Linked DNA regions of Homo sapiens: region 2 is linked to region 1. The links come from fine-mapping of genetic effects on gene expression. Tissue or cell type: thyroid. Region 1 holds a variant in brackets; the other region holds the start of a gene. All regions are shown on one strand. Distances are from middle to middle.

Evidence for each region. PIP is the estimated chance that this variant, and not a neighbour inherited with it, causes the effect.
Region 2: TENM4 starts here. The variant in region 1 is fine-mapped to the expression of TENM4 in thyroid (GTEx, PIP above 0.99).

The regions. Positions count from the first base shown.
Region 1 is chr11:79,217,242-79,225,346 of GRCh38, reverse strand. The region is part of intron 2 of TENM4 (teneurin transmembrane protein 4); the gene reads left to right. Among named protein-coding and RNA genes, the nearest start is that of TENM4-AS1, 130 kb to the right of the region's middle. The variant T/C (reference allele first, on the strand shown) is at 3,323.
Region 2 is chr11:79,437,672-79,445,776 of GRCh38, reverse strand. It overlaps TENM4 (teneurin transmembrane protein 4), which reads left to right and starts at 4,747. Exons shown (of 34, transcript NM_001098816.3): 1 at 4,747-5,268. RefSeq lists silencers at 4,619-4,788, 5,049-5,158.

The DNA.
Region 1 (8,105 bases):
AGAATTGTAATTGGAACTCTAATTCTGTTTAGATTTTTTCTGACCCTTTCTGCTGCTCCAGTCTGCTTTTCTTAGGCGTGTAAGCTTCCTTCTCTCACTGCAGACGTGCTTTCCTCACTCTGTGGATTTCCTAGGGCTGACGGAACAAAGTGCTACAAACTGAGTGGCTTAAACACTGGAAACGTATTGTCTCATAGTTCTGGAAGCTTAAAGTGTGAGATCAAGGTGTCAGCAGGACCGTGCTCCTCTGAAGGTGCCAGGGAAGAATCTGTCCTGGACTTTTCTTTCTGCTGTTTCTTTGGCTTGGGACAGCGTGAATCCCATCTTCACCTGGCATCTTCCCTGTGTGTATATCTGTCTCTGTGTCCTAATTTCCCCCCTCCCCCTTTTTTTTTTAGACAGAGTCTGGCTCTTGTTGCCCAGGCTGGAGTGCAATGGCACAATCTTTGCTCACTGCATCCTCTGCCTTCTAGGTTCAAGTGATTCTCCTGTCTCAGCCTCCCGAGTAGCTGAGATTACAGGCATGCGCCACCATGCCGGACTAATTTTTATATTTTCAGTAGAGGCAGGGTTTTGCCATGTTGGCCAGGCTGGTCTCCAACTTCAGACCTCAGATGATCCACCTGCCTCGGCCTCCCAAAGTGTTGGGATTACAGGCGTGAGCCATCCACCTGGCCAAGTTTCCCCTTTTTATAAGGACACTAGTCATATTAGATTAGGGCCTGCCCTAATGACCTCATTTTAACTTGATTGCCTCTATAAAGACCTTATCTCCAAATAAGGCCCCACTCTGCAGTACTGGGGGTTTGGACTCCAGCATATTTTCTTTTTTGAGGATACAATTCAACCCATAACACCCACATGGCCACCAACTGCTCTCAGTTTTTGCATCTTACCATTTGCACTACTAGATACTACATTCTTCCTTCACTTACTGATTTCAGAAATCCCAGGGAAGAATTCTAATTGGTTCATCTTTGATCAGGTTCTGGTCTCCTCAAGGGAAGAAACCGGGTCTGGAACGATGACTAACTCGGCGTTGTTAAGGTGCCCAGCCCTGAACCAATCAATGACAGCCAGTGAGGCAGGATTGTTTAAGACCATGACAATCGTCATGGGACCCATGAATCTGTCAGATCAGTCAGTCCATGCTGGGTACAAATCATCCTCTAAATCATAGAGAATTGATAGCAACAAGGAGTTCATCCTGTCTTACACTCCACATCTTCTATGGGCAATAGAGATGGTGAGAGGAGAGGGGTTTCTGCTTATTGTAGTCCCCAGGGACCCAGACTGACAAGCCATCCCAACTGTGCTGAAAGAGAGCTCTGGAGGGTCTTGTATTGGCAGTTAAATCTAACACCTGAAAGTGGTACACTTCTGCTCACAACTCACACCACAGTTAGTGACATGGCCCTATCAGGGTGGACATTCTCACAGTGTACCTGGAAAGTAGAGAGCCAGAAATAATTGACGCACAGCACCTATGACTGTCACAACCCACGTGGTGGGAGCAGTGGGAAAAAGGGTTCCCAGGAGAGGGGAGATGCTTCACCAGAATATGATGGGGTGCTGCCCAGGGAAACTAGTGGATAAGCACTACAGGGGCATCTGAGGCCAAAGGAAGAGCCATGGAAGACAGTGGGGTGTTAAAAACACTGTGGTTTAGCTGGAGCATACAAGGTCTGGGGTGAGAATGGCCAGGGACTGGGCTGGAAAGGTGGCCAGGCTGGACAGTGAAAAGAACTGCTTGCTATAGGGGAGAGTTTGGATTTCTTCTCCCCCAGTGACAATAGGGGAGCAATAAGGGCTTTGAGCCGGGAACAGGAGGGTCAGGTTTGCATTTTAGAAATAGCACTGACCTCTGAGCAGAGGCCCAGAGGTCTGGGACAACTCCAGTGGTTGAGAACTAGACTTAGTGTTAGTCCTGCACTTTTAAATCCCAGAATTTTTGATGATGTGCTTGAAGGGGTTAAAGGTGGACATTGCTTAAATAAAAGCAAGTTTCAGAAAATTGATAAAATTCTCCACAGATAGCATAAACTTCATCAGGCTGCTTTTTAGCACTTGTGGCTATTTGAGAACAGTTTTCTCCCCTGCCAGTGCTTCTTGTTAGGCCATTTTTACAGGCAGTTCTTGCATATCCTCTAAACACACGATCTTTCTCAGATGAGAGCCTGTTATTTTTTTTTTCTATATTTAATTTTATTTAAGTTCTGGGATACATGTGCAGGATGTGCAGGTTTGTTACACAGGTAGACGTGTGCCATGGCGGTGTGCTGCACCTGTCAACCCATCACCTAGTTATTAATCCCCACATGCATTAGCTATTTATCCTGATGCTCTCCCTCCCCAAACCCCCTGACAGGCCCCAATGTATGTTGTTTCCCTCCCTGCGTTCATGTGTTCTCATTGTTCAGCTCCCAATCTACCCATCTGACAAAGGCCTAATATCCAGAACCTACAAGGAACTTCAACAAATTTACAAGAAAAAAACAACCCTATCAAAAAGTGTGCAAAGGACATGAACAGACACTTCTAGAAGAAGACATTTATGCAGCCAGCAAATGTATAAAAAAAGCTCAACATCACTGATCATTAGAGAAATGCAAATCAAAATCCCAATGAGATACCATCTCACACCAGTCAGACGGCAGTTATTAAAATGTCAAGAACAACAGATTCTGGCAAGGCTGTGGAGAAATAGGAATGCTTTTACATTGTTGGTGGGAATGTAACTTGGTTCAACCATTGTGGAAGACAGTGTGGCAATTCTTCAAGGATCTAGAACAAGAAACACCATTTGACCCAACAAACCCATTACTGAGTATATACCCAAAGGAATATAAATCATTCTATTATAAAGATACATGCACACATATGTTTATTGCAGCACTATTCACAATAGCAAAGACACGGAACCAACCCAAATGCCCATCAATGATAGACTGGATGAAAAAAAATGTTGTACATATACACCATGGAATACTATGCAGCCATAAAAAAGGAACGAGATAATGTCCTTTTCAGGAACACGGATGGAGCTGGAAGCCATTATCCTCAGCAAACTAACACAGGAACAGAAAACCAAACGCTGCATGCTCTCACTTAAAAGTGGGAACTGTTATCTTTTCTCTTACACTGGTGCATCTGCCCCACCTGTTCCCCTTGACCCTCTCGCTGACAGATGTCCCTGCCATAGCACAGATCCTCAGTCATTTCAAACATAAGACTGAACATAAGGTTCAGATTTTCACAGCACACCTATGCCTATGAAGGATTCATGAGTTTGCCTTGAGTTTTCCATTGTGAACACTGAGAA[T/C]GTTGAGGACCACTCGTGTGTTCACAGACAAAGAACCACAAGAAAGAACACGGAGTGGAAACCAGGCCAGAAGAAGGCAAGCAGGCTCCTCTCAGCTTCCCTGCCCTGGCAGAGGCAAACACACACAGCCTCACCAGGGCATGTCCAGAGCTGGTTGGCTTGACCCACAGAGGACGTGTAAAAAAAGAAAAAAAACAACAAAACCTTTTCAAGTCTTCATGAATGAGGACTCTCAGTTCAAAATTCATAGGAAGATTACATAAAACCATCTGCTGCCTTTATTTCCCCTTGTGTGCATTAAAAATATGCAGCTGCTCACCGAGAAACATTCCATTACGCTGTGTGGCTCACGAGCTGCTCTTTGACGTTCAGGACAGAGAGGAGGCAAGGTGGGAGGAGAGGCAGGGGTGAGCACGCACAGGGATTTCCACTGGGCTCTGAGTGTCTAGAACAGGGCATTCCAGATTTTTCCACCTCACTGACGTGCTCTCTGAAGGAGATGCTCTTCTGTGTATGCAGTGAAGTTTCTCGGTGAGTTTGTGTGTGGGTGTGGATGTTTTTTTTTCCCCCTTTTTAATGTGAAAATTGGTCTTTGAGTCCACAAGCAGCAGCTGCAGCTGCCATAATTAAAGTGAAATAACCTGCTTCATCCAGTCCTTAGAAAGGCTTAAAAAAAATCCATATTCTAAATGGACTCAGGAATGTGGTGGATCTTCTCTCCCTGTTTATTTGCAACAAGTTTTATTTCTTTACTTTTCTCAGGAGTCAGGAGAAGGGTATTAACCTTTACTGAGCATTTATCCTGATCCCAGGCACTATGCTGGCTTGTCCCAACTGCACAGCCAGGATTTGAATCCAATTTTGATGCTTCGTTTCTTCCCCCGCTGCCATGCCCCTTCAGGATGCCTTTGAACTCTGGATCTCTCCACCTGGTCTGATTCTGTCCAGAGGCCTGGGAGGATTGGCATTATTAAGATGTTATTGAAAATGCTGGCACATATAATCGGCTTGGATTAGAAACCAAAGCTCTTCGCAGAGTAACAAGGTGAAGTATTTTGTGCTAATAATTTACGTGATAATGAGATGGTTTTCAGAAGATTGGATGTGCTCCTAAAGGTGTTGCTTAAAGTCACTCTTCAAACCAGGCTGGGAGCATAAAAATCCCAGAAGAACTACAGACTCTGTAGTTTGTACAGATCTCAAAATAAGGTAGCTGAGGTAGAAAGAACTATGTGCTGAGAATTGAAGACATAGTGGTCACTGTCTTCAAGGAGCTCCCAGTCTGGTGGAAAAGAAAGTTGTAAAGATGAATAATTATAAGACACTGGACATAAGAGCTAGCTGAAGGACAGGAATAGCTTGCTGTAGTTTCAGCATTTTTTCTCTAAAGATTCATTCCTTCAATTGGTAAATTTGTGAGGAGGAAAGCTACCTCCCTGAGAAAGCAATGCCCATGATGTTGAACATTTAAGACTAGAAGAAATTATTCTACATTATTATGTATATACTAAGGGTCAGGTACTTATTCTCTCTAGTCCATTATTTTTATTCCTATTTAATAATAAAGAAATGTAAAAAGCTAAGTGGTTTGGCCAACGCTGCACAGCTGGTGACTGGGTGAGTTGTGATTCAGCCCCACTCTGCTTCCAAAGCTCCACCTCTTGCCACTGTGCCAGGCTTCCCCTCAGCAAACTGGAACCCTTGATTGTCAAGTACAGAACACACCTATCACTGTGTCCCATGTTTAGAATGAGGATATCTTTTTATTTTCCTTAAACAAAGTTTTAATAGCAGGCGTCTTGATGGAAGGTCATCTCCTCCAGGCTGCAGGTGCGATGATACAGTTCTGAGTGCATTAGGAGCCCTCTGGGCTGCCTTCCCTAAACAGGGGGTCAGCCCAGGGCACAGGAACGCTGAGTTTCTCACTGACATTCTTCAGGGACCCAGCAGGTTCCTGGGTATCCAGAAGATTTTCTCCCGGGTTTCTGTATCCACTGCTCCGGGTACCACGGCTTAGCCGAGAAGGGAAAGACAAAAACTAACACTCCTTGCCAGAGAGGAGGGTGGTTTCCTGCTACCTTTGCAGTTCTCTGCAGTCAGTGTTGTTGTTTTGGAACCTGACTTAACTCAAGGCATCATCTTATCTCCTTGATCTGTGGTCAGTTTGGGGGAAATCCAACAGAAGCAGAGGCACTCTGCATTTAATTCCACCTGGGCCTTCCTGAAAGGCAGCCCAGGAAATGATCAAGCTCCACATACCGGTGGACAGCCAGGAGATGCACTGGGAGAAGAAAGACGGTTGTGTCAGGTACATGGTGTCATGCACAGGGTTACAGCTTGCTTTATGACTTGCCTAGAGAGGAAAAGAACAGGGTTTGGATCTTGTCTCCCTTGCTTCCTCACTAGGGGATTTGGAGCAAGCAGCTTAGATTCCCCAGAGTCTCCTTTCTTCACCTGCAAGTCTGGAAGGATAATGCTTGCCTCCTGCAGTTATTTAGAAGGCTAAATAACATCAAAGCACCTAATAGCCTGCCCAATGCCTGGCACACAATTAGGAGCTCCCTGCCCCCAGGCAACTCCACTTCCAATTCATATTGTGCAAGGCTTGCCACATTCATCTTCCTAGAGCAGATCTCCAATTATGTCACATCTCTGCTCTGCTCAACAGCACTCAGAGGCTCCCTATTACTCACTGAACAATGACCACATTCCCCAGCCTGTTGAGGCCCACATCTCTTGTTGGGTGTGATGTCCTCCACTTCCCTCTGCACAGCTTACACATGCTGGAAAGCTGAGCTCGACACTTGCTCTTTGTCATGCTTTTACCTCCCATGCCTCTCCTCCCTTATGTGGAGTACCTGCCCTGTCTCCATGTCCCCTACCTTATACAAAGTCTGCTGCAAGGCAGTCTTCCATGATTTGTCAGCCATGGCGATCTCTCCATCCTCTGTCCACACATTAGGTTCTGTCTGCATCTCTCTTACAAAACTGCCAAACATTATAGTTCTCCGTGGCTATGTCTTGTTTTTCTTGCCAGCCTATGAGCTTCCCAAAAGCAGGATTTGCTTCTGAATCATTATTGTATTCTATCCAGCAACAATCCTCAGTATATGAATGAATGAGTGAATATGTGAATGAATGAATAATGCCATAATCCCTTCCTAACTCAATTTCCCCTCAACGGAATGCTAGCATATAAATACTTTTAAAAACTTTCCAGCAACAAATGAGCATTTTAGTTTCATTAACTGTCTTTGTTTTGTCTACTGGAGGTACTCTGGGAAAAAAAGGGAATTTAGGGATGGGATTTGAAAAGGAAATAAACAGATTGAAAGATTGAAGACAAACAGTTGAGGTTTTCCCTGAAGCCTTGGCAAGGATGAGGGCAGAAGAGGAGTAAAAACTGTAGCTCTGCAGCTTCTTCAAGAGGGGAGGGACCATAAGGCACAGGTGAGAAGCCAAGTCACAAGCTTTGGCCTGAAGCTGTGAGGGGAAGGGAGAGATGATGGAGTTTTATAACCCAGACACAAAAAAGGGAGCCTGAGAAAGAAATTTGAGTGTTTCATCCAAGCATAAAACGTACATATCACTTACATGACTAGGACCCCAGCAGGACCCTTGGGGACAAAGCTAACAGCTCTGTGTCCTAAAAGCCACCAGACATTTGGCATTTGGGGAGAGCCCCAACACCAGAGAAAGTACCTTTTCCCTTGCCCATTTTTGTAGCCAAGGCAGCCAATTTCCTGCTGTCTTTGGAACTTGGGGTGGGGTTGTGTGTGTCGGGGGTGGGTGGGCAGGGGGTAAACTTCTAATGAACAAGGCAGGGTAATAAAAATTAAAGATGTAATAGCCATTATTGCCTATTTGAAATGCATAAAATGATAGTCATATCCTAATTAGTGTACTGCCTATTTTTAATCTTAATGAATATAATGATTTATAAGGATTTTTCTAGGTTTACTCCCAAACTCTTGTTAACTTTACTTGTGCCCATTAATTTTCCTACCCTGGCCAGGCATGGTGGCTCACACCTGTAATCCCAGCACTTTGGGAGGCTGAGGCAGGTGGATCACCTGAAGTCAGGAGTCCAAGACCAGCCTGGCCAACATGGCGAAACCCCATCTAAATACAAAAATTAGCCAGCCGTGGTGGTGGGCACCTGTAATCCCAGCTACTCAGGAGGCTGTGGCTGGAGAATCACTTGAACCTGGGAGGCGGAGGTTGCAGTGAGCTGAGATCATGCCACTGCACTCCAGCCTGGGCCACAAGAGCAAAATCCTCATCTCAAAAAAAAAAAAAATTCTACCCTGAAGGTAGTTCAAGAGCCAGTCTCTGGAGAGTACCAACAGGATACTCTGTACTTGGCCAGAGGCTGCTGAATGTTCCTGCCTAATAGAGTTACTCTTTATTTAAAATAATTTGCCATAAAGAAACATAGTAAATGTAGATGAAGACAACAAAATTTTACTATTAAGTGGATTTTGTTTTTCATGGGAATTCCCAGCAATTCCTCACCTTATAATAAACAGCAATGTTTTTTAAGCTAGGATCCTAGATCTATTTGGGAAAAATGAATTCAGGGAACTTCTCAAATAATGGCTTTTTGGGGGTTAACCTCCTATGCCTAAGTGTATCCTTCATGCCTTATTCTTTAGCCTAGTAGGTCTCTTGTATAATAAGGCATTTTGTAGTATTTTTTATGGGTGAGTGTGGCAGTATGGGGCAGGAAAAGTACAGGGACCTTGAGTCTTTGAGGGCCTATATTCAAATTCCTATTCCTTCT
Region 2 (8,105 bases), 220 kb before region 1:
CTCACAGGTTAGACAAACCTCACAGAAAGACAGCTCACAGATTAAATGGAGTCAGTCAGACAGAAAATCACCACCAGCCTCACCTCTTGGCTTTTAAAAATGGGGCTATGCTGGGAAAGGCAAGTGGCTTGGGAGTTCTGGAGAGCTGGATTCTGATTCTGATTCGGCTGAGCCAGAACCTCACAAGCCTCAGTGTGTTCACTCTCCCCCTCTAGTTATCACAATTCTATGTGATAACACACCGTGGAAGCTCCAGGGCCACACAGAAGGCTCTTCAAGAATGTCTCTTATTCCTTCTTTTAGTTCTAGCCCCTGCTCTGCCTCTTTGTTTGAACCTCTCTGGGTCCCTCTTCCTCTTGGTGCACACTGGAAGTAGGATTCCAGCAGGCGTGGGTACAAGGATTGAGTCAATCAACAGATGCGGAGGCCCTTTGAAAAGGTGAAAGGGCTATGCTGTGTAAGGTGTTATTATTATTAGGTTGGGGAAATTACCCACAGGGTAAATATTTCTGTGAGACGAAAATCAGAGATGCAGATGTAACCTCACCAGGGAACTATTTACAGCAACTTTTCCAAAGACTGAGACTATCCTCTGGCAGGCACTTTTCTCACCCTCTAATTATGGAAGTTTGATGGCATTTATCAGTAGGTGTCCAAATCCTAAGTAACCAACTTGCATATTTGATGTGGTGTCAGACAACAGGCATGAGGCATTGCCTCTTGCTCCTCAGTGTCTTCTTGCTTTGAAGTACTTACTCCCTGAAACAATTTTATAGTAACAGCTGGACTCTGAAGGGAAGGATTTTTTTTTTGCAAATAAATACATTTGCTAATTAAAACTTGCCCTTTAAAGACTCACATTTTCTTGACCCCACTATATGTTTTCTTTTGCTTGTAACATATCACAGAATCAATAAGGGCAATGCAAACATCTTTAATATATACAGTTTCAACAGCTCTCATAATGTATCTGCCTCCATAAGAATGCCCTCTCCCCCTCTCTAGCCCAGCTACTAATTTCCCCTGATTTGTTAAATGCCTCCTTATTTCACTCTCAGAGATAAAACTCAAAACGCAGTTACTCTTCAGGGGGAGTGGGAACGGTGGATTGAAAAGGGATAAAGTCAGGGGAGGGGGAATGATCATAGCCATGTCTTTGTGTTTTTTTAATGGCAGCTTTAAAAAGTTTTTATAATGGAATAATGAATGTTTATAGTAGGAAGATTATAAAATGCCAGAAAAAGTATAAAGAAGAAAATATATATTACTCATAACCCCATCACCCAGAAGAAAACACGGTTAATATTTGGCATTTTTTTCTTCAGACTTTTCTGCAAGAGGGTTTTTATGTAGCTAACAATTTTGAATTCTCTTTTAAAATATTATATATGACAATACTAACTTTTTTATGGCACGAAAAACTGCAAAAACACTTTCGAGTAGCTGCATAATATTCCAACAAAGGCTGTCCTCCAGTTTACTTATTTTATTTGACCATTTAGGCTGCTTCAATTTTTTTCCCATTATTACAAATAATGTACTGTCATTATATCCAATCTCCTGTTTTTCTGGGCAATACGTAGAGCTGGCTGTTTGGAGGTCTTAGGCTGAATTTTACAACTAGTGTTTCCTATGGCACAGAGCAGCCATATAGGAGAATCTCCGGTTAGCTATAGAGTTAGATTATAACATGGTAGCAACTGACCTTTTTTCCCCCCTCTAAAATGCTCCCTGAATTCTACTTCCTCCTGAATACTCTTGACATCGCAATGAGTAGTACCACCTTCTATTGAGATACCCAAGCTTGAAAACTGAGTGTCACTTTGGGCTTCTCCTTGCTACCCCCATCCAATCAGAAATCAAAATCATCCTCAATCTCTCTCAAATCTCTCCTCCCTTTTCTGGCTTCATTGCAACTGCCTTAGTTTCCCTAAATGACCTACTTTTTCCTGCCTCTACTCTTCCTAAGTCACCCCAGTTAATCCATTTCTCTACACTGCTGCCAAATCATCTTTTGAAAACACACTCAAGATCACATCCTTCCTCTTCTTAAAAGCCTTTATTAACTGTCTACCCTCCTTCTGCCCCAGTACCTGAACTTTCAGGATGTTTGGATCCTTAGCCTCCTTCAGGCCCTGTCAAAATCCAATCCTAGATGCTAGGGACTCATCTAGACTCCTCCAAGACCCTCCCCCAATATGTCCAACTCTGCTATGAGTGTCTCATGCTTTTGTCCATGTCATCATACTATTGCCTGTACCTAAAAAGCATCTCCCCTCCTTTCACGGTCTAGCTAATTCCTTGCCTTCAAAACTCAGCTCAAGGCCAGGTATGGTAGCTCACACCTATAATCCCAGCACTCTGGGAAGCCTAGGGCAGAGGATTGATGGTATTTGAGACCAGCCTGGGCAACATAGTGAGACCTCATCTGTAAAACAAACAAACAAACAAATAAAATTAGTTTGGCGTGGTGTGGTGGCACATGCCTGTGGTCCCAGCTACTCAAGAGGCTGAGGTGGGAGGATCACCTGAGCTCAGGAGGTTGAGGCTTCAGTGAACCAAGATGGCACCACTGCACTCCAGCCTGGATGACAGAGTGAGAACCTGTCATCTCCTATGGGAAGTCTTCCCTTACTCCCAACAATTCCATTGGGCATCCCTCATGATTAGATTCAGGTTATTCATGTCTACCAGGAATATCACAGAAGTGATATGTCCTTCCCAGTGCACTATATCAGGGGCCACTTGATGTCTATTTGTCACATTCCTGCTAATACTGATTTTAATCACTCAAGGTGGAGTCTTTCAGGTTTTCTATTGAAAAGTTACTATTTTCCCCTTTGAAATTAATCAGTATCATGTGGGCAGATACTTTGAACCTATATATATTTTTTGTTTCTCAACATACTTTCACCCACTACTTTTAGCATCTGGGTCTCATTTTTCTCACTGGTCAAATGAAATGCATAGACTGAAAGTGATTTGCAAAATTATCACTCTCAAAGATCCCTTTCTTATACTCCCTGTCTTGGATCTTCTGTAATGAAAGAATTTGTCCACCAAACCAATGTTACTCCTTCAGGTACATGTGTCTCATTTTCTCAGTGTACATTCATGAAACATGCCTACTGAACTGTAAGCTCAGAAAACAGGGCCTGTTTGTCTCACCACTGAATGCCGAGACCTATCACAGCACCTGCCACAAAGTAGGTGGTCAAGAAATATTTGTTGAAGGACTAAATCTAACTGCCAATCACAGCTGATGCCCAGCATTTGATGTCTGCAGTGAGGACACAAAGTTGATAAATGCTATTCAAAGGCAGAGACTTGACATTTTAGTTAATCTCAGAGGCTTTGTCACTGGTCACTGTACACTTATCATAAAGATTTTAAAAATAGATTGGACAGATTGTGTGGAAACTTCCCACCCACCCCAACCCATCCCTGCCTTTCTGAGATGCCCTAGTTATGAGATGTTGAAGGGGCATTCCAGCACCCCACGTTTATAATCTGTGATGCCTTTATAATCAGCATATGGCAACTGGCTAGACAGTCTCCTCACCACACAGAAGAGTTTTCAAAATAGCCTACCCCTCCTTTCACATTTATGTGAAATTAGCATTGTCACATTTCCTCCTTCATTGACTACTTTAGATCAGAGAGACACACTGTAGCAGAAGATCATGAAGGAAGTTGTCTTAAAGAAGGAAACTAACATAAATTAAGCATCTCATATACACCCAGTGCTTTCTTTCCATTGTTCTCTCTTTTAATCCTCACCAAAACTGGTGAAGTCGGTATCATCCATTTTATAGATGAGAAAACTGAAGCCGGGTAAGGGGAAATGGCTCGCACTAAGTCCTTTAGCCAGCAGGCAGCAGGGCTGGAGTGGGAATTCCTCCAGTCTCTTCCCCAAAGCCCTTCCAAGTTGCCACTCAGTCAAACTACCGCTCTCATCACATAAAAATGCCCTTCTCTTGGAAATGTGCTTGCCATCACGATCCAAACATTCGAGGGACAGAAATCTCTTGGACCGCAATCACTGCTATTTTTTAAGTGATTGTTATCACGACTCAGTAGCTGTTACCATGGTTTTGGGGAAGTTGTCCGAGGAAGGAGGGCCTTTCTTTGGGCATCTTGCATGCCTGAAGAAGGAACTCAAGATCTCAGCTCTTAATTACTCTGATTGTGCTGCAGTAGCAACTTGAAAGAGACCGTCCCTAGAAAAGTGTTGGGGTGGGGGGTGTGGAGTAACATCCAGCGAGCAGGCAGAAGGGAGGCCCTGGGCGCCAGAGAGACCCAGGGAAAGGCGAAGAGGAGGGAGAGGGGACGAGACCGTGCTACGGGGAGCCTGGAGAGAAAGCCAAAGGAGGAGGAAAGAACAAAAGGCAAGAGGAGAGGAAGTACAAGAAAGTCCAGAAAGGAAAAGAGAAAGTTTCAGAAAGGGGAAGAGAAAGCAAGCAAGGAGGGTAAAAGAAGAAAGAGACCAGAAAGATACCGAACTGAGAGAGCTCGGAGAACTCGAGAAAGCAAAGGAGGTAAAAGGAGAGAAGATGGAGAAGGCGGCGGAGAGGAAGGGGGAAGGAGACAGAGGAACCGAGACTGGGGTGAGGGAGCGGCCGCGCGTGGCCCCCGGAGAGGCGCCCATCACCTGCGTGGCGCCCCCCCGCGCCGGAGTGCGGCCCTGCTCCCAGCGCCAGTGCGCCGCGCGGCTCGCCGGCCTCGTAGGATTGGCTACCGCCTCCCATTCATGTAACCTGCGTGTGCGTGTGCGTGTGTGTGTGTGTCTCTCTCTCGCTCGCCCTCTCTTTCTGTGTGTAAGAGAGCGAGGGTGGGGGACGGAGGCAGGCAGGCGAGCAGGCAGGGAGGGGAAGAAGAGAAGGGAAGCTATTAAACACACACACACACACACACACTCACACACGCGCGCGCACACACCCGCCCCAACCCCCCAGAAGCCTCGGGATTGCAGCTGTTTCATGTGGGGCAGCAGTGCTGGCAGGGACGCCGGCCGGGAGCGGCCGGGAGCGGGAGCCGGTCGTGCGCGCGCGGCTGGAGGCTCGCTGGGGCTCCGCTCCCCGCGGGAGCTATTGTTGGTCTCGCTGGAGCTGAGCGCAGAGCCCGGACCTGCTCCTTCCTGGGCGCCCCGCTACGGCTCGCGGAGCAGAGGAGCCGCGCCGCCGAGAGAGAGAGGAGCCACCGGCGCGGCGCCTTGCCTCCCTGCCGCCGTCCTCGCCGCTTCCCCGGCGGTAGCAGCCTGCAGCCACGGTAAGGCGGCGTGATCCGCTCTACGGAAAAGCGCCTTGGGGACCGCGGCGACGCCTCGCCAGCTCCATCGCCCTCTGCACTGCTGGCCCGGGCAGGGTTCGGGTAGCTCACGCGGCTGCCGAGGGCTCCGGGAGATGTTTGCTTGCTCCCCTGGCCCAGGAGGAGGGAGGCTAGGGCGCGGGTGGCCGAAGAGGCAAGCTGTTCTGGAGCCTGGAGCCGCCGCAGCCCCCGGAGCCCGCCGCGGACTGGAGCCTGGGAGCAAGGGTTGGGGGAGGGCAGGGAGGTGGGAAGCGGGTGGGAGGGAGGCGGCGCGCCCCAGGTTCGTCTGCCTCTCCCGGATCCCGTTCCCCGCCCCGGCCCGGTCGCCTGCAGCCCCTCTGCAGACTAGCTCGCCCCAGGCCCCCGTCGGGCGCTGGAGGAGCCCGCGAGGCGGCGCCGGGCTTCAGCGGCTGCAGCCTGCCCTGCGGGGCAAGTGCCGGCTGCAGCAGCCCCGCACGGGCGGTGGTTGGAGCTCAGATCCTGGAGATGCGACCCCAGCTCCTCGCCCTCTGCAACCCGCGGGGCGCCCGCCTCTCCTCACCGGGCGCCCGGCCGCGGTATTGATGTTCGTCTAGGAGCCAACTGAGGCTGCAGCCGCCAGATGGACGCTTGGAGGGCTCCCGGGTGTGAGTGTGACTGTATGACTACTCTCACCCCCAGCTTCGGGAAATGTGCTCTGGGTTGAAATGTGATCACCGAGCTCCTCAGTCATTTTAATTGCCATTTTTAAATGCGGTCGTTACATTGGAGGAGCAGACTGGAAGGTAGTGGGGCGGCGTGTGTGTGTGTGTGTGTGTGTGTGTGTGGACACACACACGCAACCGAGGAATACACAACCAACTACTTGGGTGAAGGGCGGGGGGTTCACCTAGTGAGTCCTTCTTGGCGGGGGGGTCGGGCGAGTTAGCTGCCCGCTGCCCGCCCCTTCTCTGCCTGCCCCCGCCTAGGCGAGGTTGGAAAGTACTGGAAATTCAGCTGCGTGGTCCTTAACTTTGGAAATTGGCTCCGCTTTCAGGGCAAAATGTTAAGGCGATTTATGCACCCGCGTCCATGTGGATGAGTGTATTACTGCTCAGTTGGGTGCAGAGCCCTCAACAGTACCGCGCCAAGCCCCCACCCGATCTCTAACTCCCTCCCACCCCCTAACCGTGGAGAGAGGGTTTATAGAAATGCAGTTATCTGTAAACCATCGACGCAGTGAAAGGGGCGCAGGGAGGCAGCCAGAGTTTTGCCTGAACCTGCATACTGGCTTGGTGTTTGTAGCACACGAGATCACCCCGCTGCTTTGTAGAAGGCGGTGGTGGGGCAAGCTCGGGATTCCAATCGCCGGGGTGGGGGGTGGGGGGAAGAGGGTGCCCATGTACTGAGCTCTGAGGCCGAGTAAGGAGAGAGATCTGCTGAGCGGCATCGCGGGCAATTACATAAGCTGCCTCGGTGATTACCCGGAACTGTGATGCGAGCTCCCGGTTCTCGAAAGACAAGCCTGAAAGTTTGCCTGCTTGGGGAGTGTAAGTACCGGGGCGCCCCCACCCCGGCCTGGGTAGCTAGGATACGCCTCGCACCACGGCGCCCACTTGTGCGATGGGCGTCGGGTGCTGATGCTGCTGTCCCCAAAGAACCGGTTACCGAGGCAGGGACTAAGTGGGGGCATCCGGAATTGATCGCAGAGGAGGAGTCAGTCAGAACTGAGGTTTCATTGGGTCTTCAGAGCTCCAAGTCTTCCCTCGGAGGTGTTGGAAGGCCTTCCAGGGAACGCCGTTTTCAGAAACTGACTTGGTGTCCTGGGGAGCCCCAAAGCCCCTCTTTTCCGCCCTTCCTGGGCGCCCCTCCTTGTCTTTCAAGCCCTGTGCCCTTCACGTGTTTAGAAACCTGCCCGCGGTGCCTGGTCCCCCTTGGAGATGCCCAGGCAGCCCAGCCATCCAGGCCCACGCTGGCGAGGGGTTAGAGGGAGTAGAACGCTGGCTCTGCCGGGCTGCCACCCTTACCTACACCTATTCCTGGTTTCCTGCGCTAGCCCGGCGCTGATGGGGACGGGATGGGGCTGGGGTCGGGTATGGCTTCCGTTCCTTCGCCTCTCGCCTCTGCAGACAGCAGTTTGCTTCTGTTGCGTTTATTCTCCCCGTTTCGCCGCTTCCCTCCAGCGCCGCAGCCTGTGTATCACGTTGATGGGCTTTGATAGAGAAACCACAGTAAGAGTATGCTTTTAAATCTTGATTTTCGTCTGTAGGGGGATAAGCCACCCCAGCCCTGACACAGCCGTGGGGAACGCTGAAGTCTGGGACACATTGGCCCTGAACTCCCTTCCCCCCAGCCCGCAGTCAGGAGATGGTGATGTGCATGGGTGGGGAGTGTTTTGTTTTTGCCACATTCCAGCGTCCTGAAACCTCTCGTCCCCTCCCACTGAAATCCCCGATCTGTCTGAATCTGTTCCTTGCTGTAAAATAAATCCTCCCTCCCGCAGACCTGTGGGGCCCTTCGGATTTCCTGCCGCTGCCATGATCCTTAACAATGCGATTGAAAAGCCAGTGCTCGGCTGGAAAAAAATCCCCAGGTGCCAGCCGGCCGCGCCTTGACCTTGCTGAAGGAGCCTTTAACCCGGCTGCCAGAGGGGCTCTGGTCCAGCCGTGGGAATCCAGGAAGAAGGAGGGCGCCCCGGAGGCGGCTGGGTTAGCTCCCCGGGCAGGGCGGGAATCAGGTCGCGGCGGGGACCGCAGAGGGGGAGGGGACGGGACTCCGCGGCAACCTGTTTCCCGGCGAGCCGGGCCCGCGCATCCCAGCTCCCTCGCCCCAGCCCCTCG